4 separate regions of the Homo sapiens genome follow, and all the other regions are linked to region 3. Evidence: fine-mapped expression QTL. A gene starts in region 3. Each other region holds a variant in brackets. All regions are shown on one strand. Distances are from middle to middle. Region 1 overlaps APCDD1L-DT (APCDD1L divergent transcript). Region 2 overlaps APCDD1L-DT (APCDD1L divergent transcript). Region 3 holds the start of APCDD1L (APC down-regulated 1 like). Region 4 overlaps APCDD1L-DT (APCDD1L divergent transcript).

The links.
Region 1: its variant is fine-mapped to the expression of APCDD1L in monocytes after LPS (Quach 2016, PIP 0.95). The same link has a PIP of 0.9 or more in monocytes, monocytes after Pam3CSK4 and monocytes after R848.
Region 2: its variant is fine-mapped to the expression of APCDD1L in transverse colon (GTEx, PIP above 0.99).
Region 4: its variant is fine-mapped to the expression of APCDD1L in unexposed skin (GTEx, PIP above 0.99). The same link has a PIP of 0.9 or more in aorta, atrial appendage and sun-exposed skin.

Annotation. Positions count from the first base shown.
Region 1 is chr20:58,538,973-58,547,074 of GRCh38, forward strand. All of the region lies in intron 5 of APCDD1L-DT (APCDD1L divergent transcript), which reads left to right. Among named protein-coding and RNA genes, the nearest start is that of APCDD1L, 28 kb to the left of the region's middle. RefSeq lists enhancers at 2,611-3,810, 7,089-7,590. The variant A/G (reference allele first, on the strand shown) is at 4,871.
Region 2 is chr20:58,568,420-58,576,521 of GRCh38, forward strand. All of the region lies in intron 6 of APCDD1L-DT (APCDD1L divergent transcript), which reads left to right. Among named protein-coding and RNA genes, the nearest start is that of APCDD1L, 57 kb to the left of the region's middle. The variant G/T (reference allele first, on the strand shown) is at 4,014.
Region 3 is chr20:58,511,645-58,519,746 of GRCh38, forward strand. It overlaps APCDD1L (APC down-regulated 1 like), which reads right to left and starts at 3,755. Exons shown (of 4, transcript NM_153360.3): 1 at 3,015-3,755. The coding sequence starts at 3,063. It overlaps APCDD1L-DT (APCDD1L divergent transcript), which reads left to right and starts at 3,735. Exons shown (of 7, transcript NR_034147.1): 1 at 3,735-4,096; 2 at 7,860-7,955. RefSeq lists an enhancer at 2,358-3,356.
Region 4 is chr20:58,609,429-58,617,530 of GRCh38, forward strand. The region is part of intron 6 of APCDD1L-DT (APCDD1L divergent transcript); the gene reads left to right. Among named protein-coding and RNA genes, the nearest start is that of LINC01711, 21 kb to the right of the region's middle. RefSeq lists an enhancer at 571-1,072. The variant C/T (reference allele first, on the strand shown) is at 3,125.

The DNA of each region.
Region 1 (8,102 bases), 27 kb after region 3:
CACATTGACCACAGGGGCCAGGAAGTTCAGTCGCATCTTGTACTCAGAAGGAGAGAGAACTGAGATATTTGGAGGGTTGCACCAATGACTAATGACAATTTGCCTGAACCCCAAACTGAGTTAGGCCATGCTATTGTGTGCTTTGTCTATTTCACCTTTCTAACACACACCATTGTGCAGTCATGTGTTTGTGTGACTATTTGATTATCGTCTATGTCTCCCACCAGGCTGAATTTCACAAGGGCAGGGCCCTATTGGAACTGTTGACTGCTCTATCCCTGTTTCTGTCACTTGCCCCTTGCAGACATTTGAGAAGTTTGGTGTCTATAGCAGTCAATCATTGGAAAATAGATGCTGGTCTCTTTATCCTGCCATCTCTAGATACCTTTTCTTCTTTTAATTATTCACCGCAGAAATTTATATACCCATCTCCCAGCTTCCACAGTTATCAACATGCCAATCTTGTTTCATCAAATTCCCATATTTCATTGCAGAAATTTTTGAGTCTATAAAAAATAGAATCATATAGTAAACTCTCATGTAACCATCTCCCAGCTTAAACCGTTATCAACATGCCAATCTTGTTTCACTGAATTCCCATATTCTCTCCCCACCTCTATTTTAAAGTGAACACATCCTATCATTTCATTCACAAGTCATTCACTACAATGTAATACCATTACTGTGCCTCAAAAATGGACAGTCATTTTAAAATATCATATAATACCCAGTCAATGTTGCAATTCCATTGATGGCCTCATAAATGCTTTGTTTAAATTAAGATCCAAAGAAGATCCACACATTGCATTTGGTTGATTTGGTTTTGGAAATCTTTAGTGAATCTCCATTCCCTTTTTTATTTTCTTATTTTTCTATTGGAAACCATATCACCCATCCTGTAGCCTTTGCCATAATCTTGATTTTGCTGATGGGATGGTGTCTTCTGATATGTTCCTCTGTCCCCTGTGTGTCCTGCAAACCTGTAGCTAGCTCTCAGTAAGATCTAGAAGTTTGATGATGTTCATATTTGACTTTTTTGGCAAGAATTCATCAGAGTTGTCATTGTATACTTGTACTGCCTCATTCCACGTGATGTCTGTTTGTCTGTTAAGCTTCCTCAGAGGTTTTGGGGTTTGCCAGCCTGATCCACCATGGTACCCACCTTCATCCACGGTACCCACCCCCATCCCCCAATTCCCAGTGATCCCACTCCTGTTTACTTTGTTCCACTTTCTTACAAGAAAAATCACATCCTAAAATGTTCCCTCCTTGCACGGAAAACCCATCCAGACGAGGCTCAAGTCATAAAAGAGCATGAGACATGGATCTCCATTTGTTATGAAGTTAGTGGGCATCAGCTTTATCAACAGCCCCCATCTTTAATCAAGAAGAAATTACCCACTGGTGGGACATTATGGTTTTCTTTTACAACTAGCTCGTTTTTTAAAAAATTAATTTCAGTTCAATTTTTTTTTTAATTTTACATTTCGGGATCCATGTGCAGGATGTGCAGGTTTGTTACATGGGTAAACGTGTGCCATGGTGGTTTGCTGCCCCCATCAGCCCATCACCTAGGTATTAAACCCCACATGCATTAGCTATTTATCATGATGCTTTCCCCCACTATCCCCCTACACAGGCCCCAGTGTGTGTTGTTCCCCTCCCTGTGTCCATGTGTTCTCATTGTTCAGCTCCCACTTACAAGTGAGAACATCCGGCATTTGGTTTTCTGTTCCTGTGTTCGTTTGCTGAGGTTAATGGCTCAGTTCAACTTTTAAGCAAGGAAAGAGAAGGATAATTGTGCAGCGTTTCCTGAAAAGTTATGAAAGAAAGCAAAGGGTCATTTTTCAGAACTCCTCTCCCACCATTAAGAATCATCCATCGTGGCTCTTCCTTGCATCTTGCAGCCGAGCTGTAAGCCCTGGAATTGGCTGATGGGGCTTTGCTTCCAGAGATGTTTCTCAGATCCTCCTATTTACAAGGAGGGTGTTTGGAACTAGAAAAAAGCTGGAGGTTCGCATCAGGGGAAATTCTCAGTGCAGCTCACACACTCTCATGCCTGCTGGGAATCCGGGCCCTCCCCACTCCCACCTTCTCCTCTGCAGCCCTCTCCTCTCTTCTCCATCCTTATTTCCATTCGAATCAGTGGTTATGGGGTGCTGTCAGGCCTGAGCACCGATGAAGGGATTTTTCAAGCTGTAATTTGTCATGTGGATGAAGGTTTGATCCCTTGTTTGGTGCCCGCAACATTGGGGTCCTAATTTCCACTCCAGGGCCAGTTCTCTGTGGAGCAGGGCAAAGCTTGCCTAACCTTTCTATGTTAGTTTCATCTCCTGGAAAATAGAGTTAATATCTACCCTGCTCCTAGGAACACGGGAATTAGTTATTGTTTTTTCAGAGTGCTAATCTCATACCTTTGCCAACACAAGGCAATTCCACCAACAGCCCCCAAATTATATCTGATCACACAGTGGCTGAATGTGTTGATCATCACTACTTCCATTGTGAAACTCCAAACGAATATTTTTAAGGTTGCCACTTTATTCATAAATCCAAGAAGTTATCACAGCCACTGCAGTGAGTGAGGTTCAGAGCTGAGGGCCACTTGGAAAAAATCACCACCCACTCCAGCCCCGGCCTCCATCCAAGGCTAGGCAGGCTATCACGAAGCAAACGAGAAGGTCACGACAGGCTGCAGCTTCGTCCCTTTCCATTTCGGGCTATGATTAATCTTTTCTGATGTTCTTTTATTTGAAAAAATAATCTAAACTGGCCCCAGACAGAACCAACTCTCCTTAAAAGGGAAATCTACATGAAAGGACGGAATGTTGCTCACAGAGAGAAAAGACAGGGAACCCATCGCTGGAGGTTTGAGGCTCCTGAGGAGAGCACTAAGGTGCCTCGTCTTTAACTTATGGGCATAACGGGAGAGCTCTTTCTTCTTGAAGTTGGTGATTCACAACCTCATTTGAGGTCTGATTCCATCAAAAATACATCCAGCTCCAAGGGCTGCCAAAAAAAAGGAGGTTTTCTCTAACCCAAGAGACCCCACACAGTTTCTCCTCCAGCCTGGAGACCTGGGTGTACTGTCAGGGCCCCCACCTTCAGTTCTCCTGCCCTCCTGAGTTGTAAGCAGTCCCCAGGAAAGACTCTTCAAGAGGCAGGCCGCTTGGGTCTGGATGGTTCTCTAAGTCAGAGTTTCTCAACTGATGTGCGACTGACATTTGGGGCTGAGTCACTGGGGTGGTGGGGACAGATCTTTGGGGCTGAGTCACTGGGGTGGTGGGGACAGATCTTTGGGGCTGAGTCACTGGGGTGGTGGGGACGGATCTTTGGGGCTGAGTCACTGGGGTGGTGGGGACGGATCTTTGGGGCTGAGTCACTGGGGTGGTGGGGACGGATCTTTGGGGCTGAGTCACTGGGGTGGTGGGGACGGATCTTTGGGGCTGAGTCACTGGGGTGGTGGGGACGGATCTTTGGGGCTGAGTCACTGGGGTGGTGGGGACTGACCTGTGTATCACGGGAGGTTTAGTAGCCTTCCTGCTCCCACCCACTGGATTCTGTGAGCAGCCCCTTCTCCCATTGCAACAACCAAAAATGTCTTCAGACATTGCCAAATGCTTCTGGGTGAGAGGGCGCAAAATCACCCTGGTGGCAATTCATGGAGCTGTTGGTCCCACAGCCCTTTCCAGGGTGCCTTCATGTCCACAGGGAACCTTCAAAGTGCCAGGGTCTTTGGCTGAGTGGGTGAGACCTTGGGAAGGCAGAGCATGGAGCTGTCCTGACACGGGAGCATTTTTTTCCCTTGTGCACACATCCGCCTGGCAACCGTGCTACGAGTCACTGTGGCCTGCCTCCCAGGTGCCCCTTTGAATTGTGCCCACAAACCAGGTGGTTAATCAGCTCTCCAGCGCTGCTTGGAAGCGTCCCTGCCTAAGCGAGCATGTAATTACCAGCTCGCACCCTCAGCCGTGGACACGCAGGAGAGCAGCGGCAGAAACGGGTGGCTCATTGCAGGAGGGGGAGCGGGGGACTCTGGCCTTTGAAGCGTGACATGAATGCCAAAGATGATGGTGTCCGTCCCCTTTGGAGACTGGACATGTTTTGCTGGCCTTTACTGGAACACAGCCACCGGATCCCTGCAGATGGCTAGGGCTTCCTGAGCTACCTGTTTGAGGGAGCGGGCCCCCAGCCCCGGGGGGCACCTGAAGAGCGGCCTAAGCCTGCACACACCTTGGCCTCTTGTTAGGTCCAGGGGGGTGTTTTATTTGGCAGCCTTGTTCCCCATCGTATCAAACGAATTAAAATACGCCCACACTAACTATAGTTTGTTTGCAGTAAAAATATTTGAAAGGAGTTTAATGATTTTGCTTCTTAAATTATCTAGCAGCAGGTAATTCATCAAAGTTGCAATTACCTGTGATTTGCCCCACAACCAATAGGCATCCTTAGGCATTCTTGCAATGGTTTTCTCAAACGTAATGCAGTTTTTATGACGACGACATCATCAATACAGCACCCAGCAAGCAGTGAGGAGGCTGCACTGCTATAGTTGGCAGGCGTTTAATGAAGCATTTATTAATTTTGATTTTGTGGCTTTCTTGTTGAATTTTGGAGCCCATAATTTTCTTCCACATTGCACACACTTGCGTGGACCCCAGAAAGGTTCATGCCTAAGGCTCTTGGGGGTTTGTGGGTGGGTGGGGGTGCTCTTTTTTCTTGGCAGTATGCTGAAGGTGAGAAGATTCCAGAGGTAGCTGAACAGTTGCTTTGCTGGGGAGGGTTTGCTTAGCTGCTGGAGTCACTCCCAGTTTCCTCTTTCTTGGTTTTTGTGGTGGTAAAAATTAAGTCCAAGCATCTGGAGAGCCAC[A/G]TGTGTGATTTGCAAACATCAAACACAGCATTCATTCCTTATTTCTTGATTAATTTATTGGCTGTCGGCTTTCTGATCAGTCTACCAGCTGGGCATTTTACTTTTCTCTTACTGCGAACGAGGCGTAATTGCTGGGACGCAAACCGGTCGGAAAAACAATGAGAAATTAGGCATAATTGGGCGGCATTTCCTGACGAACTATAATGCCAAGCTCAACATGGGAGCCAGTGTTTTATTTTCTTTTTTACAAAAAGGGACTTCACAGTTATTCCTAGCGCGTGAGTTTTCCTCCCCACTGCTTTCCAATGCCTGGGACTGAGCGGAGGGGGTGATTTCCTTCTTCCCAATCAGAGGTAGCGAATCTCTCAGAGCTTATGGTAATATTTAAAGACATAAAAAGGACAGGACAATTAGAAATGTGCACAGGTAGCTTTAGGGCTGACGTTATTGATGCCTTTGTGATCAATAGCACTATTTTTATTTGGATTGCTAGCCATAGGAAGCTACGGCCACAAAATTTAGAGAGCCCTGCAGAGGGCCTGTAAAACCCTGTTGTAACTCTCATGTCAGGCCGGGAATAACGGCTGATTTAAAGGCTTTGGCTGGTGCAGTGAGGCGGGGTTTCCATCAGTGTATGCCCAGGAGAGGGGATTACATCTGCCTGGCGTCCAGACCCCAGGTGGAGTGAAGCCGTTTATAACACAATTTGGCTGCAGTTGAATTTTAATCTTGGGATCCACCGATTGCTTTAAGGGCGAGCTCGAGAAGCCGCCATTTGTTTTTGATAGCTTTACCCAGAGACTAAAGAAATCCCTCCCCCCACAGTTGTTCTGTTAGGGGTTGTGTCTGTGGAAGGGAATTGAAAGAGAAGATTTGGTAAATAGGAGCCATGGACTGTCGTGCTTTCTGGATGAACTGTGTGGACACTGGCTTTCTGATAATCATCGTAGCTAATATTCACTGGGTGCTAATGAGACGTGAGGATGCTGCTAAGCACATTTCACATCATGTTTATCTTCTTAATTGTTTATTTTATTTTATTATTTTTTTTGAGACAGACTCTCACTCTGTTGCCCAGGCTGGAGTGCGGTGGTGCAATCACCACTCACTGCAGCCTCTGCCTTTGAAAGGGCTCAAGCAATCTTCCCACCTCAGCCTCCCGGGTAGCTGGGACCACAGGCACATGCCACCACGCCTGGCTAAATTCTTTTGTATTTTTTGTAGTTTTGTAGAGATGTGGTCTCCCCATGTTGCCCAGGCTGGTCTTGAACTCCTAGGCTCAAGCAAGCCACCCACCTTGGCCTTCCAAAGTGCTGGGATTATAGGCCTGAGCTACCATGCCCAGCCACATCATGTTTATTTAAAAACAAACAAACAAACAAAAACAAAACCCAACTCACAACAACCTGTGAGAGACTATCTCAGGCCCATCTTCTGGACCCGCACTGGCCAATATGGTCACCATTCGTTACTGCGTTTGAAATGTGGCCAGTCCATACAGAGACAAGTTGTAAATGTCAAACATTCACCAGATTTCAGACTTGAGGTGAAAAAAAAAAGTGTTAAGTACTCAATAACTTTTATATTGATTACATGCTGGGATTTGGGTGATATAAAATGTATAACGAAAATTGTATTCTTTTGATTGTGTACCCATTTGTTTTTACTTTTTGAAAATGTGGCTAGGAAATAAAAAATTATGGATGTGATTCACATCATACTTCTAAGGCACTGATCTTAGAAGAAGAAAAGACACACAGACCTGTAATCCCAGCACTCTGGGAGGCCAAAGTGGGCGGATCACCTGAGGTCAGGAGTTTGAGACCAGCCTGGACAACATGATGAAACCCCATCTCTACTAAAAAGGCAAAAATTAGCGGGCGTGGTGGCATGCTACTTAGGAGGCTGAGTCAGGAGAATTGCTTGAACCTGGGAGGCGGAGGTTGCAGTGAGCCAAGATCACGTCACTGCACTCCAGCGTGGGTGACAGAGTGAGACTCAGTTAAAAAAAAAAAAAAAGAAAGAAAGAAAGAAAGAAAAAGAGGCCCAGAGACTAAAGGATCATGCCCAAGGCCGCCCAGCATGCAAGTGTCCGGGCCTTTTAGATGCTAACAACATGACCCCAGAATGGGCACTTGTGCATGAGTCAGTTTCTCAGTCAGCTTTTTGTCGTCAGCCCCACATCCTGCAGACCTTGGCTGAATTTGTAGCCCCTCCGGTCTCAGTTTTCCCAGCTCGGTCATCAGAGGCTGGAGTTGAATGATCTTTGTGGCTTTTTTGCGGACAATGGCGTTCTCAATTTTGTACTCTTTGGCACAGAGTGGTGTAATGTGGAGAGGGGAGCATCAGTCTCTCTCTTAATGCTTATTTAATTATATTTAATTAGGAATCTCGTTGCAATTGGTCTCCTGGGGCCATCTGCTGTGGAGATTTTTGAAGAATCCAAATTTTATTTCTTGCCATCGATCCATGTGGTTAATGGGCCTGAGGAGGAATGATGTCATCTGTCCTTCTAACTTAGCACAAGAGGCAGGAGGAGAAATTGAGCAAAATCAGGCTGAGCGCCCGAGAAGGCCACCCTTTGGAGAGCCAGGGCGGGCCTGGCTCATTCCTTCAGGTTCTCAACTGTAGTGCCCACGGTGTGCCCCAGCTTGCTCTGCCCTGTGCCAGGATTTTGGGGACAGCTGGGTTCTGGCATCATCTGTGCCCTTGTTAACATGGTACCCTAAAATTGATGCTTGCCCTGATGGTAAAATGGTGGTCTGCATGTGATCGGCACCAATCTGTGACGTCCAGGGTTCTTGAGTCAGCCACGTATTCCCTGGGTTGCCTTCAAGATGACCTGAGTGGACTCACTGCCTATTCTTTTCCCTCTAGGTGGAATAGGATTCTTACAGGAGTAGGGTGATAAGAGAAGGGGGCTCTCCTTCATTGCTGCCATCGGGCTCCTTGGTGGAAAACTGGGGCAGGATTCAAAGCAAGGCTGACATGACCTGTACTTCCCCAGAAAGGAGCCGCTGGAGGCCTGGCTAGGGCCAGCTCTCCAGCCCCGGCAGCTGCCCCCCACCCACCCCCACCGGGCATTTAATCAGTGTAACTGATTAGTTGAAACACACCACAGGCTGGGAGCCTGCGACCCTGGCTGACGTCCGGGGCTGTTGTTTATGGCTGGGTGATTTGAGGCAAGCCTCCCGACCCCGCTGAGCCTCGGATCCCTCAGTTACAAAATGAG
Region 2 (8,102 bases), 57 kb after region 3:
CGAGTCCCACCGCTCAGCAGAAAGCAGGCGCCGGCCCCTGGCTGTTCCTCCCAGCTGCACAGCTGTGGTCTCCCAAGATACCCGTTCCTCCCCCAGAGAGCCCTCACCTGCCACCCTCCTGGCCACCGGCCATGGATGGGGGTCATCTCTGCACCGAGCTTGCCGCACTTGTGGGGTCTCCCTGCTGGTGCTGCTGCAGGAGGGGGTCGAGCTGGGGGTGTGCGGACACCTCCCTTTGCCAATGACTCCCACACAGTTGATGAGAAATCCATTGGGTCCTGCCTCGTTTTGTTCCCCGGGACTGCAGCTGTTGCTCCTTACTTAACTCCAGCATTCCCTCCTCATGCAGTCCCACCCTCTCCCACTCTACCCTCCTTGTGGGGGCTGAGACAGGATGGTGGCTGTCCAGAGCCACAGCCAGCCTGCCTCCTCCACACATGGGCGCCCACCCACCCCTCCGCACACCGGGGCCGTCGGGGGGCCCGCTTGGTGATGTTTTAAGTGAGGCCGACAGAAAAACCCCACTCCACTTTCCAGCACTGCCAAAAACAGCTCTCCCGCTAGATTTATAAAGTTTGCCTAACTTTCCTTCTGCCACCCAGGAGAGGCCTTCCGTGCATTTGAAGAAAACACCTCCCCCAACCTTTTTTTTTTTTCTCTGAAAAACAGATGAAGGTTTTGGCTAGAAATCCAGAGGTCTGGGGGGCAGGCGTGTAAATTCAATGGCGGTTTATTGCCCTAAGGAAAACATACCTGGGTTATGAAGTATTCCCCCTTGAAATCTCACTTGACATTCTGTAAAGAAAGAGGAACGTTTTTAAGAAGTTGTTGGAGCCACCTAATACCTTCCCTACAAAGCAGAGCCTTTTTGAAAGATTAATATCGAGCTGCAGACAGTCAGTCACCATAATTGTACCGATCCCGGCGTGTTCCTCTGCCCATGCCGTCGGGGTGCTGGGAGCCGCAGGAGAGCTCCATCCGGAGTGCCCGGGAGTTGGGGCCTCCAGCTTAGTTCCATGAAAGGCTGCCAGCCCCGGCCCTGGGTACCCAGTCCCAGACCCAGACCCACATAGGCCAGCACATTTCTGCTGATGATCTTTCTTAACTCTTTTTCCTAAGCCAAGGAAGGGGCAACGCTGCGTTTGGGGTTTGTAGGCATTTATTAATGGAATTAAGGACGATTTGCAAGAACCCTCTACTGCTCACACCACTTCCCTCGTGTCATTGCGTAAGAGGCTTTTCCTGGGCAGCTCTACCTACCTGGTTGTGTCCCTTTAACTGGAGAAAAAGGGAAGTTTGGGGGGGTTGGGGGCCCTCTGACTCGGAACAAAGTCTTCCTGCAGATGCTCCCTGTAGTGCCGTGGGCTGGTTAACGTGAAGTGTGTGCACGTGGGTCCTGGCCAGCACAGTGTGGGTGAAACTCCCTCCCTCCTCCAAGGTCATGTAGTCGCCTCGCAGATGTGGCTGGTATGGCAGTGGGTTTCAAGGCTGCCAAAGCTTAGAAGTGTCACCTCGGACAACCCCTGCGGGTGCCTCGTAACCGGAAGAATGGGGCAAGGTCGAGTTGCCATTTGGCTCCCTTTACCTTTTTGTCCGCGTGGTGGTCATGCTAAACAGGCCCTGAACTCCCACTTGGGCACCCCTGGGACCTCAGCTTGCAGATCAGGGGCTGGCTATGGAGAAATGTGAGGTCCCCCCTCCCCTCATCTATGGGAGAAAAACAAAGGCCTAAGCGAAATGACTTTTTTTGAAAGCATCATTCCATACAGCATTAATTTTTTAGGATTTCTTCTGGGAGGGGAGATCAGATCAGAACCACAAATGATATGAAAACATCAATGTCTTCATCTGGAGAGGAGCGGGTGGTGCAAAGGTCCGACCACCACGAGGTCAATCCTCTCCCGCCCAGCGTGGGCTCACCGACCTGCCATGGGGTGGATGTTGATTAACTTCATCCAGGGTTTCCCCTTGGTGTCTGAGGGCAATTTCTGACCCGGATAAAGCTGGCTTTCACCACGTGACCTTTACAGAAAGGCAGTACTGTGTCCCCTCTGGGGTCCCCGAAATAATAAATCACCAGAGGCCCAGTGAGAGATGAGGCCATGCGAGGAGGCAGACAAAGGACAGAAACGGACAATAAATCTCACTTCTAGGGAGCAGTCATTTCTTTTTTCTTTGCAGTAATTTTTGTGAAATGTAATTGTGATCCAATAATACAAATACCAACATCTGGAATTCTGCAAGCGATATCTCTGCCTGTTCTGTTTGGAAATGGAGTACTTGGCAGGCATACTTTCTTTCCCATTCATGGACAGGGAGCAAAGCGTTCAGGGGAGGGCCAGAGGGGAGAGAGCACTGCCGTCTGCTGATCGTGGATGGAACCCTCATTTGAGAAGCTCCAAAGGTAGGGGTCATCAGTCAGACCCCAGCCCCCCTCCCCCACCCCCCACCAGCCACTGACAGTCCCAGGAGCCAGGCATTTACAACCCAAGCCCACAGAGATGTGGAAAGAACTCTCAGAACCAACGTGGTTTGAAAAGCACCAAGAAAGAAGGGAGACTTGGTCGAATAGCCGCACTTATCCTTTGCATTTCTGTCCTGGGCTAAAAATATGAATTCTAGATCATGAGATTGAAGATTTTTTCTTTTTTTTCTTCTCAAATTAAGGTCCAGGGGGAAGGAAGCTCAGCTCACCTATAGGCTGAAATGGTTGGGGTGTGCCCTGTCTCTGCGACTCTTACCGCCCTCCTTGGAAATTCTTTTTTCTGTGGGTTTGGGGGCTTTAGTACCTTTAAACTTTCTAAACCTTTCTCAGGCCATCAGAGGAAAAAAATGCATTTCCCTACCCCAAATCCAAGCTCTGAAGAATCCACAGTTTGTCCATTTTCCTCATTCGATGAACAAAGAAACATTAAACTCAAAAAGACAAAAGCGGAATGTCTACAAAATACCTCAGAACAGTCTTCTTAATTTTAGGGGAAACGACTGGGTCATTTTCTTCCAGTGCTGTCAGAAAGCAAAGATCCTCTCCTGGGAGAAAGACTGCTTCAAAGTCCTCCAAGATGTGAGGAGTCCCTGTGGTTATTAATTTTTAACTTTTGGTAGTTTTTATTACCCAAGCTTGTACATACCTCAAAGGCTCTAAGACAAGAAAGACGGCTCAAAAGAGTTTTGCTACCACTTAAAAAAACAAAAAGAAACCCTACAGTTTTAGGATTCATGGCTGGGCCTCTGCTGTCATGCACCCAGAGTCTGGAGTGAAGAGAAGTACCAGGTGTCCTAAGAATGCTACAGCGGCTGCCTTCAAACCAAAGACCTGCACAGTTTTAATGACCAGATGTTTATCTAGCCAGAATTCATTTTGATGTGTGCTTTACAAGCCACTGGTCAAGAAAGAAAAGTAGTTTAAGCCCAAAAACAATCACTAAGGTCAGAAATCCAACAGTTTGTAAATCTGTAGAATTTTATGCCTTGGGGATAACAAATCTTTATTTTTCTTTAGATAATGTAAGTTGGACAGAAGTCATAAAGAGGGAAGTCACAAAAACTGTTTGGACTATGCCCCCGCAACGCAGAAAATCACAGTCGCCCATAGACCATAAGGAGGAATGCCGATGTTAGGGTCTCGCAAACCAAGGTAGCAGGGCCAGTACTGCTCGACTGGGTCAAACATTTTGTTCTTACTGACTTCCTAACCTTTTCCCACTTGACATCTTTATTGAGCACTCGTGAGGAGGCCCCAGCTGCCTCGGCTCCGAGCACATTCATCTCTGGGCGCTTGCATTTTTGCAGGGGCAGTTACATTTTCCGTTTTCTAGCCAGGAATGGAATGTTGATACTGTGTGATTATTTTATTTATTTTATACGTTTTCCTTGGAATGTCTACGTGTGGCCGCTGCCCTGGCTTGGTGGCCTCTTGATTTACGGTAGTTATAAACATTCCAAAGTAGACATGTCAGTTAAATGATACCATAACATTATACAGTTACAATTCTGTTCTAAATGTGCCCAGA[G/T]TTCCAAAAAATCCGTTTTCAGCTCCCCTCCTCCACCCCATTCCTTCCTGCTACCTACGCATGATGGCATTGGAAGCCACTAGCTCAATGGAAAGAAGACAGAAGACCTAAGGTTTACTCGTAGCCTCACCACCCCCTAGCCCCGCCTTCTGGAAAAAACATTTTTTTTTTTTTTTTTTTTTTTTAGATGGAGTCTAGCTCTGTCACTCAGGCTGGAGTGTGGTGGCACAATCTTGGCTCACTGCAACCTCCACCTCCTGGGTTCAAGTGATTCTCCTGTCTCAGCCTCTTGAGTAGCTGGGATTACAGGCACCCACCACCACAGCTGGCTAATTTTTGCATTTTTAGTAGAGACGGGGTTTCACCATGTTGGCCAGGCTGGTCTTGAACTCCTGATCTCAGGCGATCCACTTGCCTTGGCCTCCCAAAGTGCTGGAATTTAGAGGCGTGAGCCACCATGCCCAGCCGGAAAAAACATTTCTAAGAAGCAAGTTGGCATCCAGAAGTAACATGCCCCTTTAGAGAACACATTTGAACTTTCTTCCTACTGAAAATCACGTTTATTCACATCATGCATGTATTCCCAGGAGAAAGTGGTTCTAAGATGGTGGCCACTGAGTAATTCTGGGAGGTGACCTGTCTCTCAATCCCCTGGCCTGCTGCCTTTACCGCCCACCAACAAAGAAAGAGTGGTTTGTGCTTCCTAAAAGATGCTGAGAGAGGGAAGGAAGAAAATATCTCCACGGACATAGCAATTTGGAGAGCTTAACATTCAACCAGAAAACCCACTTCAGCATCCTCCCCAGGAGAACTGTCAGGGAGGAATTCGCTACATGCCTTCTCACAGAAAACACTGGGACATGGGCTGCTTTCACTGCCCAATTCTAACCCTTGGACGTGTACAAACCCGACAACTGATATCTGAAGCAAAATGTACACCTAAAGAATTTTTATTCTCTGTGCTAGAGCAGGGGTTGGCCTGGGCTTGTTTTTGTAAATAAAGTTTTATTGGAATGCAGCCACGCTCATTTGTGGATGTCTTGCTTATGGCTGCTTCTGTGGGACAAGGGCAGGGTTTGATAGTTACCACGGAGACCCAACGGCCTACAAAGCCAAAAATGTTTACTGTTTGGTCTTTCGCAGGAAAAGTGTACTGGCTCCTGTCCTGGATCAACTCAGAAAATGAAACACATCGGATTCTGTCCAGGCCGGGCACAGCAACCTGGCCCATCCATGTGGAGCCTGCAGTGACCACTTCCGCTGTCTGCACAAAACTGGAGGGAGGCTGGGGGTGCTCCAAGTATAAGTTTCCTCATCAGCAAACCGGAAAGAGAAAGACCGACCTGGAGGCTGGTTATGGGGATAAAATAAATATGTCCTTATATATGTGTATAAAGCCCCAGCACAAACAGCAGTCGCCGCATGGGTCAGGGAGGCACTGCTTGGAGCCTTATGTGACCGTGTTCTCACATTATCTTCCAACTGGTTTGGGAGACAGGTACTGCTATGATCTCTGTATTACACAGAAGCAAACTGAAGCTCAGAGTGGCCGCTCACTTCACTCCGAACAGAAGGTGCTTGAGCTCTGTGCTGATAGATGGAATCCCAGATTTTCCATTTAACTTTTGATGTTGTGTCGTGGGAGTGGTGTTCCACCTTTGGAGGGTTTTAAGGACTCTTTATTAACCAGCAAGGGTTCTTGTGCCTTTAAGGAGGAGTGATTGAGAGGCACCTGCAAGGCCGGTGGAGGCTGCTCTGGAGGCCTGCCTCTTCCAGCCCACAGGCCCTGCTTCCTGGAACTGGTGTGGGTCACTCATTCCAGTTCGCCTCTGAAACTATTTTCATGACAGTAAGCTGCTACCTCAAGAAACAGCAACAGTAGGGATTTTGCCTGTCAGGTAAGGTGCTTGGGGAGTGAAGGCTGTGGTCAGGATCCAAGCAGGAAGCCTGAGTTCATGTCTATTCTTCACCGAGCATGGCCAAGTCCATTTGAGTCCATCTCCAGAAGACATGTCAAAATCACCCACTTATCTCCATCTTCAACTCCTCCCAGGTCACCACCTTATCTTCCTTAGATGACTGCACTAGCTTCCTGACTGGTTTCCCTAAAACCCATTCATTTATCTATCCCTTCTACCATTTCTCCCACCAAACATCCATCTCACCACCCACCATCCTGCCACTTATCTTTCCCTCCCTCCCTCATTCCCTTCCTCCATCTATCTCTCCATCCATCCATCCATCCATCCATCCATCCATCCATCCACCCACTAATATGTATTTAGTGGTTACAATGTCCCAAGCACTGTATGGGTCCCAGTGTAGGTGGAAAAGGAAACAGATTTCCTGACCTCAAACAAAACAATAAATTTCAAAGTAAGAAGCCCCACGAGGGAGGAAGTGTAGGCTGTCTTGAAAGAGGATGATATCAGGAGACATATATGGAGAGGGCTTGGAGGAGGTGATGCGCCTCACCAGGAGGTGATATACTGATAGAGGGACTATATAATTTATTGATCAAACGGGGCCATTTTGGGGAGTGAGAGGAGGAGCTATTAAACATTTTTTCAGGGCACCAGGTGCATGTCAGGACTGGCCAGGTAAACTGAGCTGCATGGCTACCTCCTACAAGCCAAGGTTCACAGCATGAGCTGAGAAAGGGGCAAGGAGGAGAGAAATGCCCCTTCCTTTCCTTGGGGAGAGCCTGCAAACCTACATTTAAAAGAACTAGGAGAAGGCTGGGTCCGGTGGCTCACGCCTGTAATCCCAGCTCTTTGGGAGGCTGAGGTGGGTGGATCATGAGGTCAGGAGTTCAAGACCAGCCTGGCCAATATGGTGAAATCCCATCTCTACTAAAAAATACAAAAATTAGCTGGAGGTGGTGGCGTGCGCCTATAGTCCCAGCTACTCAGGAGGCTGGGGCAGGAGAATCGCTGGAACTAGGGAGGCAGAGGTTGCAGGGAGCCGAGATCATGCCACTGCACTCCAGCCTGGGTGACAGAGTGAGACTCCATCTCAAAAAAAAAAAAAAAAAAAGGGGGCTAGGAGAGAAAGTAAAGAGGAAAAAGAAAGAGCTGTGGAGTGCTGGGGCAAGAGTGAGTTTTGGGGATGGAGGTTAAGCAAATAAGAGTCTCAGGGAAATGCGGGATGGCAGAGTTGGGGGAGAGGAGAAAATAGGGTATAAGAAATGTTTTTCTGTGTTGTGAATTGGGCTCCCTTCGATGCTGCTTTTACTGTTGTCTATCAAAAGATGCAAGTGAAAGAGTGGCATTCCCTTTGCTTTCTCTAAGGCGTGTTTGCTGTTTGGGATGTGCATCTTGGACTAAGTCTCCTTCTGGAGCTTGGAACACCAGGTTCTGCCGTCACAACCTTTATCATGCACAGGTCGCCCTGGCATGGACAGGACCTTAGCTTTATTGTCCGTGCTCCCTCGCTCAACTGAGAGCTTTCTGAGGGCAGGGCCTCTGTCTGCTTGTCTCTAGTCCCAGCACCTAGCACAGGCTAGCATTTAGTATGTGCTCAATAGTGTGCAGTGTAGGGACGAGTGCACGGGCTCCAGCGTGGTTAATGTCCTTCACAAGGCGCCTTGGAGGAGCCGTCCCCAAGCTCATGCTTCATTTCACATCCTGCTCCTGCAGAAATGGAGCAGCTGCTCCGCTTGGGTTATTTAGTGTCGGAATTTCATCTCCCCCCATGCCAGGCTGCCCTCGTCTCTACCTCCATCAACTCCCCAAGGCCATCCAAGGAGCCTCATGGAAGCAGATATCTGCAGATGGCTTGTGTGACCCATGGATGGGTATTGAGCTTCACGCCTCACCGCCTTACAGTCTGGCCTCTTCGTCAGCATCAGTGGGACAGGCAGGGTCTCTAAGAAGAGCTCCAAGCTCCCAGAGGCCCTGCCAGGCAGTTCTGGGCTGGTTCCCTCAGGGGTCAAGGGAATCATGGCCAGCGTGGGTCACAGTTGCGGGCTGGGGAGTCTCAACCACTACTCTTCCTCCGGCTAGCTCTGTAATTCGGAGTGAGCCGTGTGGACTCCAGCCTCAGTCCTTCTGTAAAATGGAGACAACTCAGCACCGAACCCTATGCAAT
Region 3 (8,102 bases):
GAAGTCTCCATTGATAATTTTTTTTGTTTGTTTTAAGTAACTAATACGATTACGGGTCTCTATTCACATTAGATTTTTGGATGAGTGTATTTAAGTAATTTTCTTCTTAGTTTTTATTCTGGGTTTCAAGGCAGAGCTCCACATCAACTAATTTATTATGGAATAGCTTGTGATTTTGACCTAGTTAATCTGACTGTAAATGATAACTTGCCATCGCAAAGTATATAGCGAGAGATAAAAGCAGAGCTGAAATTAGAAAAAAAAAATACAAGTTCGAAAAAAAAGCAGCAGCTATGGTTTCTCATTTTCCCCCTCCAGCATAAATTGTTGAGTAATGAGATTTTTAAAAGCCAGAAATTGCTGTGGAGTGAACCAACACTGGCAGCTGGAGAACTGGCACCAGACACATCTGGCCTGACAGGGTTTGAAGGAAGGTTCGCTGCAGTGGGTGACTACCCATACCGCAGCCTGGCTCCTGCGGCCGCCATGCGGACATGTTCAGATACAAGAGGGAGGGAGAGCAAATGGGAAAAATCAACGTCCAAATTAGAAACTACCTAAGCTATGTTGTTTTTCTTGGGGCCCCACTGTGCCTTTGATTTCCTGATCGTTCAGAGCAAGAATAACAAAATCCGTCTAACCCAGTGATTTTGACGGATTCGTCTGAAAAACTACCTGTTGGGTTTGATCTGTTCATACCAGTGATTCTCAACTGGGGGCCACTTTATCACCTGGAGACATGTGGTCATATCTGGAGACATTTTCAGTTATCATAACTAGGAGGAGGTGCAACTGGCATCTGTAGGAAGAGGGCAGGGATACTGCTAAGCACCCCAAAATGCACAGGACGGGCCCCTCATCCCCAACAAAGAATCCTCTGGTGCCAAATGTCAATAGCGGCGAGGTTAAGAACCCCTAACGTGTGTGTACTCAATCTGAATTCTCTTGGTGGGGTGGCTGGTGTGCCATTATATATATAGTTTCTGGAACCTGGAGACATGAAGTTCAGGCGTGCCCAGCTCAGGCACCTAAATTATGTCAGTAGCTGAAGGATTAACTGGGTCCTGTTTCCTTTTACTAAAGCAAAAGGATCTCATCACCTGGTGATGTAGCCAGCGGTGAAAAGAGCTTTTCAAAGAAGCGTTCAGTGGAAAATAGTGCCCGGTGTAGAGCTGGGAGCTGCAGTGGCAGGCTGAACGGCACCCTCCCCCTTTCTGGTGGCTGTGTCTGAATTGAGGGCAGGCTGCCCCCCTCTCTCGTCAGGCCCCCGGGCACTCTTGGCTTCTCTGCTGTTGAATCTGTCTGATTTGCTGTGGTGAAAGGTCACCGAGGAGCTGGGCAGCAAGACTCCCCAAGAGCCAGCCACGGCTCTACACTCACAGTGATTTCATTGGCATGACGGGAAGCTCCGGCCTGCCAAAGACAACAGCCATGTGCTGTGACTGAGACTGCAGGTTCCTGGGGCATGTGTCCCACCACTCTAGACTGTTCCATTCCCACTGGGTGCAACGGCCTGGAGGAGGCGGATGAGAGCAGATGGACACCCGGTTTCCCCATCCTGTCCTCCCTATCTCAGCACCCAGCAGAGGCGCGCTTCCACAGCTGGCCCCCTTGTCACCCTTTCCAGTTTGCATTTTCCTGCCCTTTCGAAAGAACCAGCAGGGGTGAGGTGGTCTATTTTCATGCTGATGATCAACTAACTCTGTGGCCAAGGACAGCTGTGTCACCTCTCGCTCCCAGACTGGCAGGGGAAGCGGCCCCTGGATGAATGTCCCTTTCGACAGGTGAATCTGCAACTCTTCAAACTGCGGAGGCACCCTCCCCTGACCCTCCTTCAGACCCCTGCCAGTTCTTCTCAAAACAGCTTGTTTAGAAATTTGGGGGCTGGGAAGAAAAGACTGTGATTGAAGAGCTCCTCGAGGTGACTTAGACTTTGCTCCTTGCCTATACATGGAGCAGAGCGTGCTCTGTGGGACCGCGCAGCCCCTCTTCACCCCGGGGTTCTCGGCTGCCATTCCCTGAACATGAGCTCAGTGCCAGGCAGCAAGTGGAGTGATCCTCCTGCACGTGCTCTCGTAATCTTCACAATCATCCCAGACGGAGGAGGGGATTTTGTGAGCCCATTTGACAGGAAAGAAAGTCAAGGCTGAGAGAGCCGATGGCCATGCTTACCCAAAGCCAGACGGGTTGATATGATGTTGATCTGGGCTTCCCAGCCAGGTGGTCTAACTCCAGGGCCAGAATTCTCAGCCATTCATAATGTGAGGGTGCTTGGGGATGAGCCCCCAGCTGGGCACACTTCAACTGTGGTTACTGTCATTTTTGTCAGTGGTGACTGGGCCCCTGTGATGGCACACTCCAGTCAGCTGGCCTTTGTACAGTTTTGTCTACCCTACTCCCCACCCCCACGAAGAGCCACCAGGGAACCCCTTAGTCCTGGAGAAGGCATTGACTACTCTACCAGGGGTTCCTGAAGCCCCTTGGTCCCCTTTGTCAGGCCTGCTGGGCACAACTCGAGCCTGGGGTCACTGCGCGCTCCCTAGCTTCTCCCCGAGTCCTGCTGCAGGAAGAAGCCCCGACCCCGCACAGGTCAGGATTCCGTGGGCAAAAACAACCCCAGTAACCTTGGTCTGAATAGCCGGGCTTGTCCCGCACCATGGGGGTCTCAGTGGGCCTGGGATCCTCCTGCATCTTCTTGGAGGCCCCGGTCCCACTGGGCCCGGCACAAAGGGCAGCTCTGGGTACCTACAGGCCAGGCCCCGACTGGCGCAGAGAGTGCAGCGGCTCTCATATTGCGAGGTGACGCGACTCCCTCCCGCAGGCCCCAGGAAGCTCCTGGAGGCGCGCAGGTGCCGGCCAGGTGAGACTGGAGAAAGGCGCGCAGGGCGCAGCATAGCAGCCGCGTGGGCCGACCCAGGGCCGTAGTCCCCAAGGGCCCTTAGGGGACATTAGACGGCGAGCTCCCTCCCTTCCGAGCTCAGCCAGTTTGCCGGGTGGGGGAGGGTGGCACCTACCTCCCAAAAGCACCAGGACGCAAGCGTAGGGGAGCATGGCTGCGGGCATCCCGTCGGGGCTGGCAGGACCGCCCGCCGGGCGCTGCCACGGTGCGCAAGGGGAGGCGCGGGCGCAGGGCTCTCGGACGGCTGCGGGCGCCGGCGGCCAGGCTGGAGTCCTGCGAAGAAGTTGCGAGGGTCCTGCGCCCCCCTCGGCGCTCACACGCGCTCAGCCTTCCCGGCTGTTGATAGTTGTAAGCGGAGCTGCGCACTCATAGGTCCAACTTGCCAGAAGAGGTGGAGACAGCCCCCGGCGAGGCGCGCACACCCGCGCAGCGCGCACAGCCCCCTGGTGCAGCTCCTGCCATTCAGACCCCCAGCCCTCCCCCAGATGTCCGTCCCCTGGCCGTCGCCTTCCCCAAAGTCTTCGCAGTGGGCAAGGAGGCCTCCCCCAAGCTCTGGTCCCGGCCAAGGCAGAGCGATGCGCTCCTTGCGTCAAAGCGCACCCCTAGCCAGGCCGTTCCCTGGAAGGGCAAGCGGGGCGGGGAGTTCCTCTAAGCCCCGCCAGTCCTGGGACCCCTGAAGTTTCTATTCAGGTCTTCCAGCTACTCCTGGAAAAGTCGCGTCAACTTGGATCCCAGCAAACCCAGAAGCGCAGTGAAAGTGGCCAACCCGGTCGCCTAGAAGCCAGCCCCGGCCTCTGTCTGTAAATGAGGCCGTCACCCGCTCCCCACCACACCCAAACGCATCTAGGCAAAGTGTGGACCCGACCAGGCGGGTTTTCCTCCTTCTCGCAACTCCTCCTCCTGCCCCCCTCCCTCCCAAATCTCATCTGAGTGAGTCAGCTGAGGGTGGCAGCTCAGAAGCGAGGCAGCCGTGAGGCGGAGGACAGGCTGGGGGATCCCAAAGGGTGCGCTCCAGCCCCCAACCCAGGCACTGGGACTCTGGTGGCACCCTGGGTGGCAGGCAAGCCTTGAAATCAAGTGCACGAGCCTTGGAAAGGAGGACCGGGAGAGTTATGGCATTTATGAATGAAGAAGAGAAAGAGAATCACTCGGATGGGAAAAGTTAACTGGATTGTTCCCACCTGCATGGATCACCGGGTAACTGCAGTGGGACCGAGGGGGCGAGGCTGCGGGCTGGGGATGTGCGGGTTTCCTTGTGTTGCCACGAACCCAGAGAGGGAGAGGAAGAAGATGGAAAGAAAAAGGAAAAAGGGAAAGAAAGTAAGAGGGGAGAGAGGGGAAAACTGAGGATGAAGAGAGACAGAGAAGAGAGACCTGAGAGAGGGAGAGAAAGAAAGAGACAGAAAGAGAAATGAAAGTGAGGAAAGGGGAAACAGGCAGAGAAAGAGAGAGAAAGGGGAGGAAAGAGAAAGGGAAAAGAAAGGAGGGAGTGAAATCAACAGAAAAAAGAGAACCAGGAAGGAGGAGGGAGGGGGAGAGAGAAGAGAGAAGAGAGAGAAGAGAGAACAAGAGAGAAGAGAGAAGAAGAGAGAAGACAGAGATGCGGTCTCCCTGGGGAAAGGTTTGGAGAACTGGGCCAGGCCTGTTTCCCGGGACTCACGAGTGAGCAGTCCACCTGCCCCTCTGAAGCATTTTATAGACTCATTTGTCCCACTTTTGTGGGCTGATCATCCCACAGGGGAACAGGGGACACCACCTCACCTTTTGATTTCTTACCAGAAACTTGGGCGAGGCTTCCAGGAGCCACAAGAGCCCTTCAATCCACCCAGGGACCCCCGATGTGGGCCCACCAGCCATCCTTAGCTTTCCTCCTCTCCAGAGGCAACAGGGAATAGGAAAAAGTCCAGAGCAAGGCCACACCATGATCTTAACGCAAATGGAAATGTGAGGAAAACGATCAATTTGCTTCCTGAAAATGACATTTTTTTTTTCTGGTTTCTATGAGACTCGAGGTGGCCTTGCTGAAACTGAAATCGGTATGAGCTTTCCCTGGCAGACAATGGCCATTGTCACATATTAAATTCTCATGAAAGGGATAACTTTGTGGGCAAGAGGAGAGTTGTGCAGGGTGATTATTTATACTTGCATAATTGTGATTATTTGTGGCAATTATGGGTCTTTCAATGTACAAAATTTACAATTATGGGTAGTTTAAAAACTACATGCTAAGGCCGGGTGCCGTGGCACACACCTGTAATCCCAGCTCTTTGGGAGAGCCAGACGGGTGGGTCACCTGAGGTCAGGAGTTTAAGAGCAGCCTGGCCAACATGGTGAAACCCCGGCTCTACTAAAAATACAAAAATTAGCTGGGCGTGGTGGCGGGCGTCAGTAATCCTAGCTACTCCAGAGGCTGAGGCAGGAGAATCACTTGAACCTGGGAGGCGGAGGTTGCAGTGAGCTGAGATCATGCCATTGCACTCCAGCCTGTGTGACAAGAGTGAAACTCCATCTCAAAAAAAAAAAAAAAAAAGTTAAAACTACATGCTATTCTGGCCATAATCATTTGAGACTTCAGTCTCTGGGCTTTCCGGATGTGGGTATTTCAAAGTCCCAGGCGGCTGATGGGGGTTCACGCATTAGTGGCATTTTGTGGGGAGAATGGGTGTTACATTGATGTCCTACATAGGGTCATAATTCAGTATTTTCAGAACTTATTGTACTGCTGTTAGAGATACGAACTTTTCCACAAAGTATGATGCTTGTGTATTAATAGTTGTACTGGCTTATTTATAAATGAGAGGATTTGCTGATAATTATTGAGACTGTGGCATGGGCCAGGCACTAGTTAGGTTGAGTACTTTATATGCATGTACTTTATACCTGAACAAATTGACAAGAAGTGGGAATTACGGTCAGGCCATTTTACAAACTGGGGCAACTGAGTTCAGAGAGTTTGGGCCACTGTCCTGAGGCCAGGCAGCTGGAAGGTGGCAGAACTCCCGGATCCCTGCTTCCAACCACCGCGCTGTGTCTCCAGGACACGTCCTGTCTCACTGGGTTTTCTGCTCCTTTCCAAATCTGAGGACCCCAAAAGAAAAGGCCTGTTTTATAATAACGGCTTCTTTTCGAAGAGGTGTGTGAATAATGGGGGAAACACGACTCCAAAGTACTTTTTCTCTCCAGCCTGGGCAACATGGCAAAACACCATCTCTAGAAAAAATACAAAAATCCTCCAGGTGTAGTGGCACATGCCTGTGGTCCCGGCTACTCGGGAGGCTGACGTGGGAGGATCTCTTGAGCCTGGGTGGTCGAGGCTGCAGTGAGCTATGATTGTGCCACTGCACTCCAGCCTGGGTGACAGAGCAAGACCTTGTCTCAAAAAAAAAAAGTGCTTTTTCTACATCCTAGCTAAACCCCAGCTGTTGAGGCTGAGAGTTACAGGTGGGCCCTGCGCCTGCTGCATCCTCACCCTTGTGATGGGGCGACACTTGGGAGGGTGTGGGCAGCTGTAAAGGGCACTGGAGACTGACGGGTCCAGCGTTCCTCACTTTCCAGGTGAGGAAACAGAAGCGCAATGCAGGTGAGCTGACCCTGTTGAGATAACACAGATTTTACCCCACAAATAGAAAAAAGCAAAGAAAATGGACAAATAGTGTTTGAACAAGGCTGTCCTCAACTCACAAGCAGATCAAACAAGAGCAAAAGAAGGAACCGAAGCTAAAACTCATTTATTGTCTTCAAACATATATTTATTTTTAATCAAAAAAAGAAAAAAGTTATGTTATCCAGATCTTGCATTTTGCTCAGGGAAGGGTGATATACGCTTGGTTCCTGACCTCTTTCTTACCGAGTAATCGCTTGAGAGCTTTTGAAACGGCAGCAATCATAAGGCTGTTTTGGGGAGAAGCCTCAGCTCTGTGTTGGCCGTTAAGTCACGTCTGTGGGCATTATCGCATCTTGGCCTCCGTAGCTGGGCTTTCCTGGGCTGTTAACTGCAGGGGCCCTCGCTGGGTGGTCAGAGCTGCTGCGGGTGAGGTTTTGGGAGGATTCAGGGGGTCTTGCTGGGTGTGAGGGAAGCGGCCTTGAGTCAGATGTCTGTGAGTGGGACCCAGCCTTCTTGCTCCACGTTTATCTCCCACACCACCCCTTCCCCCAGAATCAAAGTCCAGGGGGAATCAGGAGGAAAGTATTGCAGAGCAGGGCCTCTTTTCCTTCCCCCTCCCCTCCAAATGCCTACCTCTTCATCCTTGTCCCTGTTAAAAACACCATGGGATCATAAGATCACCCCACAAAATCTTGCTATAAAATGGTCTGTTTCCTCTGCTTGTTATCAGGGGTAACTGATCAAAGAAATGGTGCCCAGGCCTGGTTATCTAATAACCAAATAAACATCCAGGCAGCCTCCTGGGCCAAGAAGGGTAGGCAGGGGTAGCTCTGGATGAAGCAGGGGACAGGCCAGGGTGGGCTGGGCCCCTCTTGGTGACCATTTCTGCCTCCAGAGTGAGCATGCTGGCTCGGCCCAGAGTCGACCAGATCCTTATAACAACCTGCATGTTACAGATGAAGAAATTGAGGCAGAGAAAGCAAGTCTCTGTCCTTCAGAAATGCCTGGTGCACCCCTGAGCCTAGCACATGCCTTGTGCATAGTGGGGGCTCGCTGCACGTTTGCTGAGTGAATTAATGAGAGAGCAAATGAACTATCACAGAATGAGCACTGGGTTTATCAGAAGACCTGACTTCAAATCATAATGCTACCACTTAGCCACTCACCATGGCCGGTGCTAGGGGGAGGCGAACTTGTTCCCAGGGCTCACCATGTAATAGGCACTCACTCTTGGGTGGGCATAGGTGCAGATAGCCCCTCCAGGTGAATGCCTTCTCATAGTTTGAGCCCTGGGTGCCTCCCACTAGTCCCGGCCCTGCAATTCCCTTTGCATCTGTTTCTTCCTCTGTAAAATAGGATGAAGCTGTGCCACCCTGTAGGAATTAGAAGACCATGTCCAGGAATTGAGCACTGGGTGCAGGATCCAGTCTTCTGAGGCCCTGAAACCACATGGTGAGAAGTTGAAGGTCACACAGCTGGTATGCAATGGAGCCTGGATGGAAACCTGGTCCGGGCTGGAAAGACTGGCTCCTCAGCTTGAACCTAAAATACCTAGGTCTTGAATGGCATCTTGTTCACCTGCCTCTGGGAAGGCAGGTT
Region 4 (8,102 bases), 98 kb after region 3:
TCTCTGAACCTCAGGCTCATCACAAAACAGGAATCATCATCCTCCTCACCTATGGAGTTGTTGAGGAATGAATGAGTTCATCTGGGCAGAGCATGCAGTCCCAACAGGACGGAATTTGCTTCCCAAGGGGGAAAAACATATTTTACTCTTTACATTTAAAGCATGGATACCTGAACAGTACCTAAACAGACACCCAGTATACCTGTGGCGTTAAAGTGTCATCGGAGAGAGCTATTAGGAAAAAATGCCTTAAAAGCCTCCTTGCAGGGGTGAAGAATGGCAAAAGCTTACAAAGATGGTTCCTGGAACACAGCAGGTGCTCAGCAAACTTCAGCTGCTTTGCTGTTATTACTACTCACAGCAGGTGTCACAGAGGAAGGACTGGTTGCAAGCTTGGGTTTAGGAGCCATACTGTTGGAGGTCCCTTCCTGGCTCTGCCACTTGCCAGCTGTGTGACATTGGGCAAGTTGCTTGACTTTTCTGTGCCTCAGTTTCTCTCATCTGGAAGCAGAGCTAATTAGAGCACCTGTCTCGTGCAGTTTTGTGTAGATTAGATGGGTTGATTTGTGTGGTATGTGTAGTTCAGTGCCTGGCACACAGTAAACACTCAGTAAATGCAAGCTATGATTATTATTGATTAAGATTGTTAATTATGACATGCAAGGAACTTGGGGGTCAATGGTGCTCATTGAGGGGAAACTGTAAGGAAGGGTGAGGTTCAAGGTTGGCCCCTAACTGCTTCTCCTGGGCATCTGGTCTGGCTCTAGCCTCAACCACTAAGGGCTGTCCTGGGCTCCAGAGGAGGGGCCGGGTGCCAGCCTAGGGCAGGAGCACCAACCGAGCACGTGAAGCACTTTGCACAGTGGCAGGGTGCTCAGGACTCTATGGAACACCCCTATCTGAGCACTGACTTCAGAGCAACGTGTCCTCCATGCATAACCCAGCTCCACATGCAGGGAGCCTGGGCCACTGCGGCCAGCTGCCCCCTTACCCTCTCCATGCCTGACCTGGCTGAGGTGGGGAGGGAGGAGTCTATCCCCTTCACACGACTTCCCAGACGGTGAGCCCCTCGCTTTCCTGGTCCGGACCCACAGTGAAGACTCGCTCTCCTGGGATCCCACGGAGACCTTACGAGGCCCCACGTGGTCCAGCCTGCCCGCCCATCCCTGCTCATCAGCCCACTGGCCACCCACTGCTCCAGAACACAGCAAGCCTGTCCCGCCTCAGGACCTTAGCACAGGCCATTCCACTGCCTGGAACTCTCTCCCCGTGGCTGGGGCCTTCTCAGCCTCCAAGTCCCCCAGTCAACCGTCCCCTCCCCTGACAGGCCTTCCCAGACCATCCAGGGTGAAGTGGACGTCACACGCCCTCCCCTCCCCTCCCCAGGTCTTCTCGTCATCATATCCCTGTTTCATTTTTGTGTTGCTCTAATCACGAACAACCATTCTCTGTGTGCGTGTTTCCTGTCCTTCTCCCCGTGAAAGATGACAAGCTCCATGGGCTGGGGGCTTTGTCTTGCCTGCTTCCTGCCCGCCACTTCCCAGTCCAGGGCCCCGCCAGCCCTCAGTACCTGCTTGTTGTGGGGATGAAGCCCACCGAGACCTTGGCTGCGCTCGTCATTTGCTGCGGTTGCCATCCCATTTTACAGCTGTAGACACTGACAGCAGAGATTCCTTTTGTGTCAATATCTCAGGGAAGTTTCTGGAACCCCTACCCAGGACCCAGGGAAAGGACTCTGCCTGGGAGGTTTCAGAGGGCACAGGAATGCAACACTGCTCAGGCCCTGGCACTTACATTTCTCTGCAAGGAGCATTTTCCTAAAATTTGTCTGTTGCCTCTGGACGCGTAAGCAAGGTGACTAAGGGACTCAGGATTTGATTAGGCAGCAAATCCGGATAAACAGGACAGGTGGCACTAATCAGAGCTGACGACTAGACAAGGCCTGGGAGGCCCTCAGGCTCTGTGAGCTCAGAGCACCTCTGTGGAAACTTCCTTCTGCCCGGTCCCCAGAGAGGATGGCCACAGCAGCACCCTGCCTGGCTGGGACGTGGCTGGATGGGGCACAGGCCTGGAGACCATGTGGCATGCACCCTGCCACTGAGCCCCCAGGTGGAGGTGCCAGGGGAGGGAGGTGGGGCTGCACAGGGTTTCTTGGCTGTCTCCAGCCAGTGGGGGACACTGAGCTTGAACTGGGCAGGTGACGACTTCTCTGGGCCTCAGTTTCCCCCTCTCTAGAGGTGATGAGTACAGGCCTGGGCTCCTGGCCCTGAGGTCCTAGGAAATGCTCTGTGCTGCAGACAGTCCATGAGGCCAGGACTGGCTCTGGCCCAGCCTGGTGTCTCCCAGGGCATGGAGGGAACACACATTCACTTCCAGAGAGCTGGAGCCTGGGGCAGGACTCTTGCCAACAGCCCCCGGCCAGAACCTGCAGGCCTCCCTCAGGTCCCACCTGGAGCCACCTGCCTGCCATGCCTTCCTGGCCTCGTTCCCCCATGGTAAAACAGTCACTGTGCCAGCCTTGGGCCAGGCTCTGACCTAAGTGTGTGTTTGTAAAGCAGTAGCTTCCTTTTTGCCTTCCAACAACCCGCAAGCCAGGAACTGTCACTGGCTCTCGTGTCACAAACGTGGTTTGAGGAACGCCTGCAAGGTCTCATGGTTAGAAAGGGCAGAGCTGGATTTCGGACCCATGCTGGCTTGAGAGGAAGACTCCCTCCCTCCCTCCCTCCCTCCTTCCCCCCTTTTCCTCCCTCCCTCCCTCTTCCTCCCTCTCTCTTTTCTAGTGACCAGAGCTTTCACTGATCAGCTAACAGTATTTGGCTAGCTCCCCAGGATCTGCTCCTCAATCCTAAATGGGACAGAAGTCTTGGCCACCAAGCGTGCCTGTGTCCCCCGCCAGGTTGAGGGGCAGAGGGTGCCACTGTGGCCCCCCGTGCCTGGCGGAAAGCACACCCCGGCTGGGTTCTTAAATCCGTAAGGTCACAATCAACAAGTGAAGGCACCCTGAGGACCCAAGGGCAGAGAGTTCCAGGAGGCGGCTGCGGGAGGGGCTGTCTGGGGCCCCCTCAGGCCCGCAGGGGTCAGGGCCTGTTGACTCTGGCGTCCTGTGAATAGACTCTTGCAAAGC[C/T]GCCATGTTCTCTGCTTCCTTGGGGAGGCACCTTGTCTTCTTAAGTCATTCCGTTGTGTCGATAATGCCTATTCTTTCCACGGGGCCATCTGCCAAGGTCAATGTTTGTGTTGTTTTAAAAACTTACATTGTATCACTGTGGGAACTTGAGTGTACAGAAACCTTTTTTTTTTTTCCTTTTAAGGAGGGGGCTGGGTGGGAGGTGGAGGTAGAAAAGTTTTCTCACTTTTCCTCTATTGCTTTAACATAAGACACCATTTGGATGGCGTTGGCTTCCCGAAGCTCCAGATATTTGAAGCTGTATTCACCGCGTGTGGTGCTTGCTTCTCCCTCCCCACCCTCTGAGGACACAGCCACTGGCCATTCCCTAGTAAAAAAAGAAAAAGGAAGAGAGGGACAGAGGGAAGAAGAGGTGGGAGCTTCCTAGAGCACAGACCCTGATTAATGTTCCAGGGAGAAAGGTTAGAGATATGTACTCAGGAAAGAAAATGGGAAAAAGGCCAGGTGCAATGGCTCATGCCTGTAATCCCAGCACTTGGGGAGGCTGAGGCAGGAGGATCACTTGAGCCCAGGAGTTCGAGACCAGCCTGGGCAACATAGTGAGACCCTGTGTATACAAAAAATACAAAAATTCTCCAGCCGTGGTGGCATATGCCTGTGGTCCTAGCTGCTTGGGAGGCTAAGGCGAAAAGATTGCTTGAGCTCGGGAGGTTGAGGCTGCAGCTAGCTGAGATTGTGCCACTGCATTCCAGCCTGGGCAACAGATCAACATCCTGCCTCAAAAAAAAAAAAAAAAAGAAAAAAGAAAACAGAAAAGGAAAAGAAAAAGAAAAAAGGTGGTGGGGAACCATCTTGGAACGAAATTCACTCCATGTTTGTCTGAGCCTGTCTGTTTCTGCAGAAGGGAGAGAGGGGTGATTTTAATTGAAAAGGACAAAATTAAATAAGGCCCGGACTTCAGGTACTCAGGAGCCTCATGGACTTGTCCCCTGGCACAGTGGCTGCCGCTGCCACCTCATGCCAATTACGCGGCCGGCCAACACCATCAGGGTCCCCAGATTAGATGCCAGGCCCCTGGGCCTGCTTTAGTCTTGGGCAAACCAGGAAGCTGGCCGCCAGCAGCCCACAGCCCTGAGATGCCGGGAATTTGTTTCTCCAAAAATGCCCTGATGAGGCCGGTGAAAAGGAGGGAAAGGCCTGACACGGGCCCTGGTTCTCCCGGGACACAGTGGCCCAAGGCTGTGTCGGCCCCAGCCCCGGGAGAGGTCAATGGCAGGAGGGTTTGTGTGGGGATCAGACATGAAGCTGGGCAACAGCAGCAGACAATGGGTCCTGAGGCTGGGCCCAGACCTCTTAGGCCCCATCAGCCACCTCCTCCAGGGAGGACTCTTTGATTAACACTCACTGGGCCCTTCTGGCTTTGGCTGGTATGAGAGGAAACCTTCCTTCCCCACTGCCTCCTGTCCTTCCACAATTCTTCCTAGAGCACTGGATGCTGGGGGCCCAGAGACCCCAACACACAAGTCCCTCAGAGTTTGCAGTCTAGTGGGTAGAGAGACGACGAATCAGGCTCTCCCAGCAGCCCTGAGCTAGGGAAGAAAGGACAGAGTGTCTTGGGGGCAAAGAATGGGGCTAGGGGTCAACAGGGCCCTTCTGGGGCTGGAGGAAAGATAAGCGGGAGTGAGCTAGGCAAAAATAGGGGTGCGGTGCTTTAGCACACGCAAAGAACAGGGTGCCTGTCTCCTTAGGGGCATGAGAGGAGGGAGCTGCAGCCTCACGGTGGGGTGGGAGATGCTGCTGGCAGCAGAGAACAGGCTGCTTGGGAGCCGCCCTGACATGACAGGGGCCTCAGAGAGCCCTAACTTCAGCAGCCCAACCCTCACACATCTGCCTATACATCCGCACTGGAGCAGGCAGAGGCTTGGCCTGGGAGAGGGGCTCCGGCAGCAGCAGTAGCCCCGGCAGCCTGTGCACGGAGCCTCCCTGGGTCCCGGGGTCACTAGTGAGGCTGCTTTGCCCTTTCTTCACAGGGTGACCCACCTGACTGCTCAGGGCCGCACAAGGGCCTCCATGTGCTCCCGTCTCTAGCAGGTGAGGCTACACGGGCGGCTCACTGCCTCACCCATGCGTCCCTGGGTGCTCCAATGGCACCGAAGGCAGTAGGGATGCTCCGCCACTTTGGGGTATATGCAACGTGCAGCCCTGCAGCCCTTCATCCTCCTCCACCCTGGAGGCTCAGTCAGAAGTGGGCACATGCACCTCTGTCCCGAGGTGAGGAAGCTGAGGCACAGGAGTGCAAGGGGCACCCCAAAAGCCACCAAGCTCCTAAGCAGTACACCTCGGACCTGAGCCCATGTTGTTTGGGATTTCTGTTGGAGGACAACTTCCATGAGTCTCTGCCACTAGCTCACTCTGTGACTTGGGGCAGTGACTTCAGCTCTCTGAGCCTCACCATTCTTGTCTGTCAAATGAGGCTAATGGCTGTGCCTCCCCTGTAGAGTCACAGTGGGGAGTAGGGGGTGATTGGTATACGTAAGGCATTTGCAACTGTGCCTGGCGCAGGTGAGCCCCTACCTCGTCCTCGCGTCTCCCCTCTGGCCCCAGGATCCTCTTCACTGTGGGCCTAGATCCAAGTTGCCTGGCACCAGGTCCTTGCATGAGCTCATGTTTGTTTAGAAATGAGAGACACGGACCATGTGGTTGTGTGTGCCACCTCAGCAGTATATGTGTCAATCAACAATGTGCTGCCAATCACCGGAGTGTCCTCCGGGTGCAAGGCGAAGCCATTTTGCTTGCCTTTGTTCACTGTGACCTCACAACAGCCATCGTCATTTCACCAATGAAGAAACAGAGGTTTTAGTGGCCCAGCCATTCAGCCAGCGTCTCACGGCCGTTGGGCAGGGGACCCACAGTCAAGCTGATCCCAGAGTGTACCCCCCCTCCCCACTATCACCACCCACAGCCCCACAACGGACCATGGTGTGCTTTCCTGGTCATCATGGACACTATGTGTGTGTCCGCCGGGCCTGTGGACTCCGAGAATGCAGGCAGCACGAACCCACGCCTGGGATCCCCACTGTCTGCAGGGTGCAAACGGTTCCTCGGCCCAACAGGCCAGGGCTGGGCTGCTTTGAGGGAAGTACAGGAAAGAGTAGCCAGGACAGCTGTCCACACGCTCTTCCTCTCCTTAATGTGTTTCCTCTGACCAAGAGCAGCGAGGCAGGTGGGCAGGGAGAGCTCAGGTTGGTGCCTGGGCCCAACCGTGACGCTGTTTTTAGAGGAATGAGTGTGAAATGCTTTCCATGCAAAAGGGAGAGAGAAAGGGGGAAAGGACCAGGGGAGAGGCAGAAGCCACTGGCTGAGTATAGGACACCCCAGCTCGGAGCTGGAGGCAGCATGGCACCAGTATGGTTGGCACTTCTGGGGCCATGGAGGCAGGGCAGGGGCCCACGGAATGCTAGATCTTAGAGACCTGGCAAGGAAAGTGGGGTGGAGGCAGATCAAGGGGCTATGTTTGGGTTCAGGGGCCCTAACCCATCAAACGGTGCAGGTAACGGCTTCCTTGAAGAGGCTGGGTGAGCTGGGACCAGGAACATAGCTCAGGTGACCTTGTGGGGCTGAGGCTGGCACACAGCAGGGTCACCACAGCCATGGGCAAAAAAATGTGTGCACCTTGTGCTGGAATTCTCGCCATGCTCTGAGCTGGTATGCTGTCAGACGTGGGGGTCTGCTCCCCAAACCCTGCTCTGCTTCTCCTCTCCCGAGGTCATTTGGCCAACAGTGATGGAGCAACCCAGCATCTCTGATTGCTGGTGTTCTTTGGAAGGTTTGAGGAACTGAGAGGTGTGGGCCAGCCATGCAGATCAGTGTGAGAGGGAAGACCCTATCTTGTCCCTCTCCAGTCCCCGGGCATGTCAGGAAGCACTCCCTGAATAGGTGCTGTGTAAGTGGACCGAGGGTTCGCTCTCTGCCCAGCTGGGAGCCAAGTCCTCTCTGTGGAGTATCTCATTTCATCTCCCACAACCACCTCGAGACAGATCTCGTGGCTGTGCCATGAAGGACTCAGGGCTCAGAGAGGAGCATTGAGGTCACAAGACGAGGAAGTGGCTGAGTCCAGACCTGAACCCACCATTGTTTCTAACAGCTGCATTGAGATCTAATTCATAGGCCATGCAATTCACCCATTGCGATGGCTTTCAGTACATTTACAGAGCTGTGTAACCATAATCAGACTATATTTTAGAGCATTCACCCCCAAAAGAAAGCCCATTGCGTTAGCAGTCACCCCATTCTGCTTCTGCCCTCCCCTCCAGCTCAAAGCCAACACAAATCTATTTTCTGTCCCTATGGCCTTCCCTATTCTGGACATTTCATGTAAATGGATTTATACAATATGTGCTCCTTTGTGTCTGGCTTCTTTTACTTAGCATAACATTTCCGGGGTTCATCCATGCTGTGGCCTGGATCACCGCTTCCTTCCTTTTTGTGGCTGGATGATACCCTGTCATCTGGATGAACCATGTTTGTTGGTGCGATGCATCAGCTGATGCACACTTGGACTATTTCTACATTTTGGCTAGGACGAATATTGCTGCTATGAATACTTGTCTGCAAGTTTCTGTGTGAACCTATGTTTCCATTTCTCCTGGGAATGCACCTAGGAGTGGAGTGGAATAGTACGTCATGTGGTAGCTCTGTGTTTAACTTTTTGAGGAGCAGCCAGATCCTTTTCCAAAGCAGCTGCACCTTTTATGTTGCCATCAGCAGTGAATGAAGGTTCCAATTGCTCTGTCTCCTTGTCGACACTTGTTATTGTCTGTCTTTTTTATTTCAGCCATGGGCATCACATGGTCTCTTGTGGTTTTGATTTGTATTTATTTGTTATGTTTACAATATTGCTTTCCGTACATCAGCTGTGCTTCTCTCAAGGCGGCAAGAGTCCCCCACTGGGTGGGACTTTCAAGGTTTGGATTTGAAG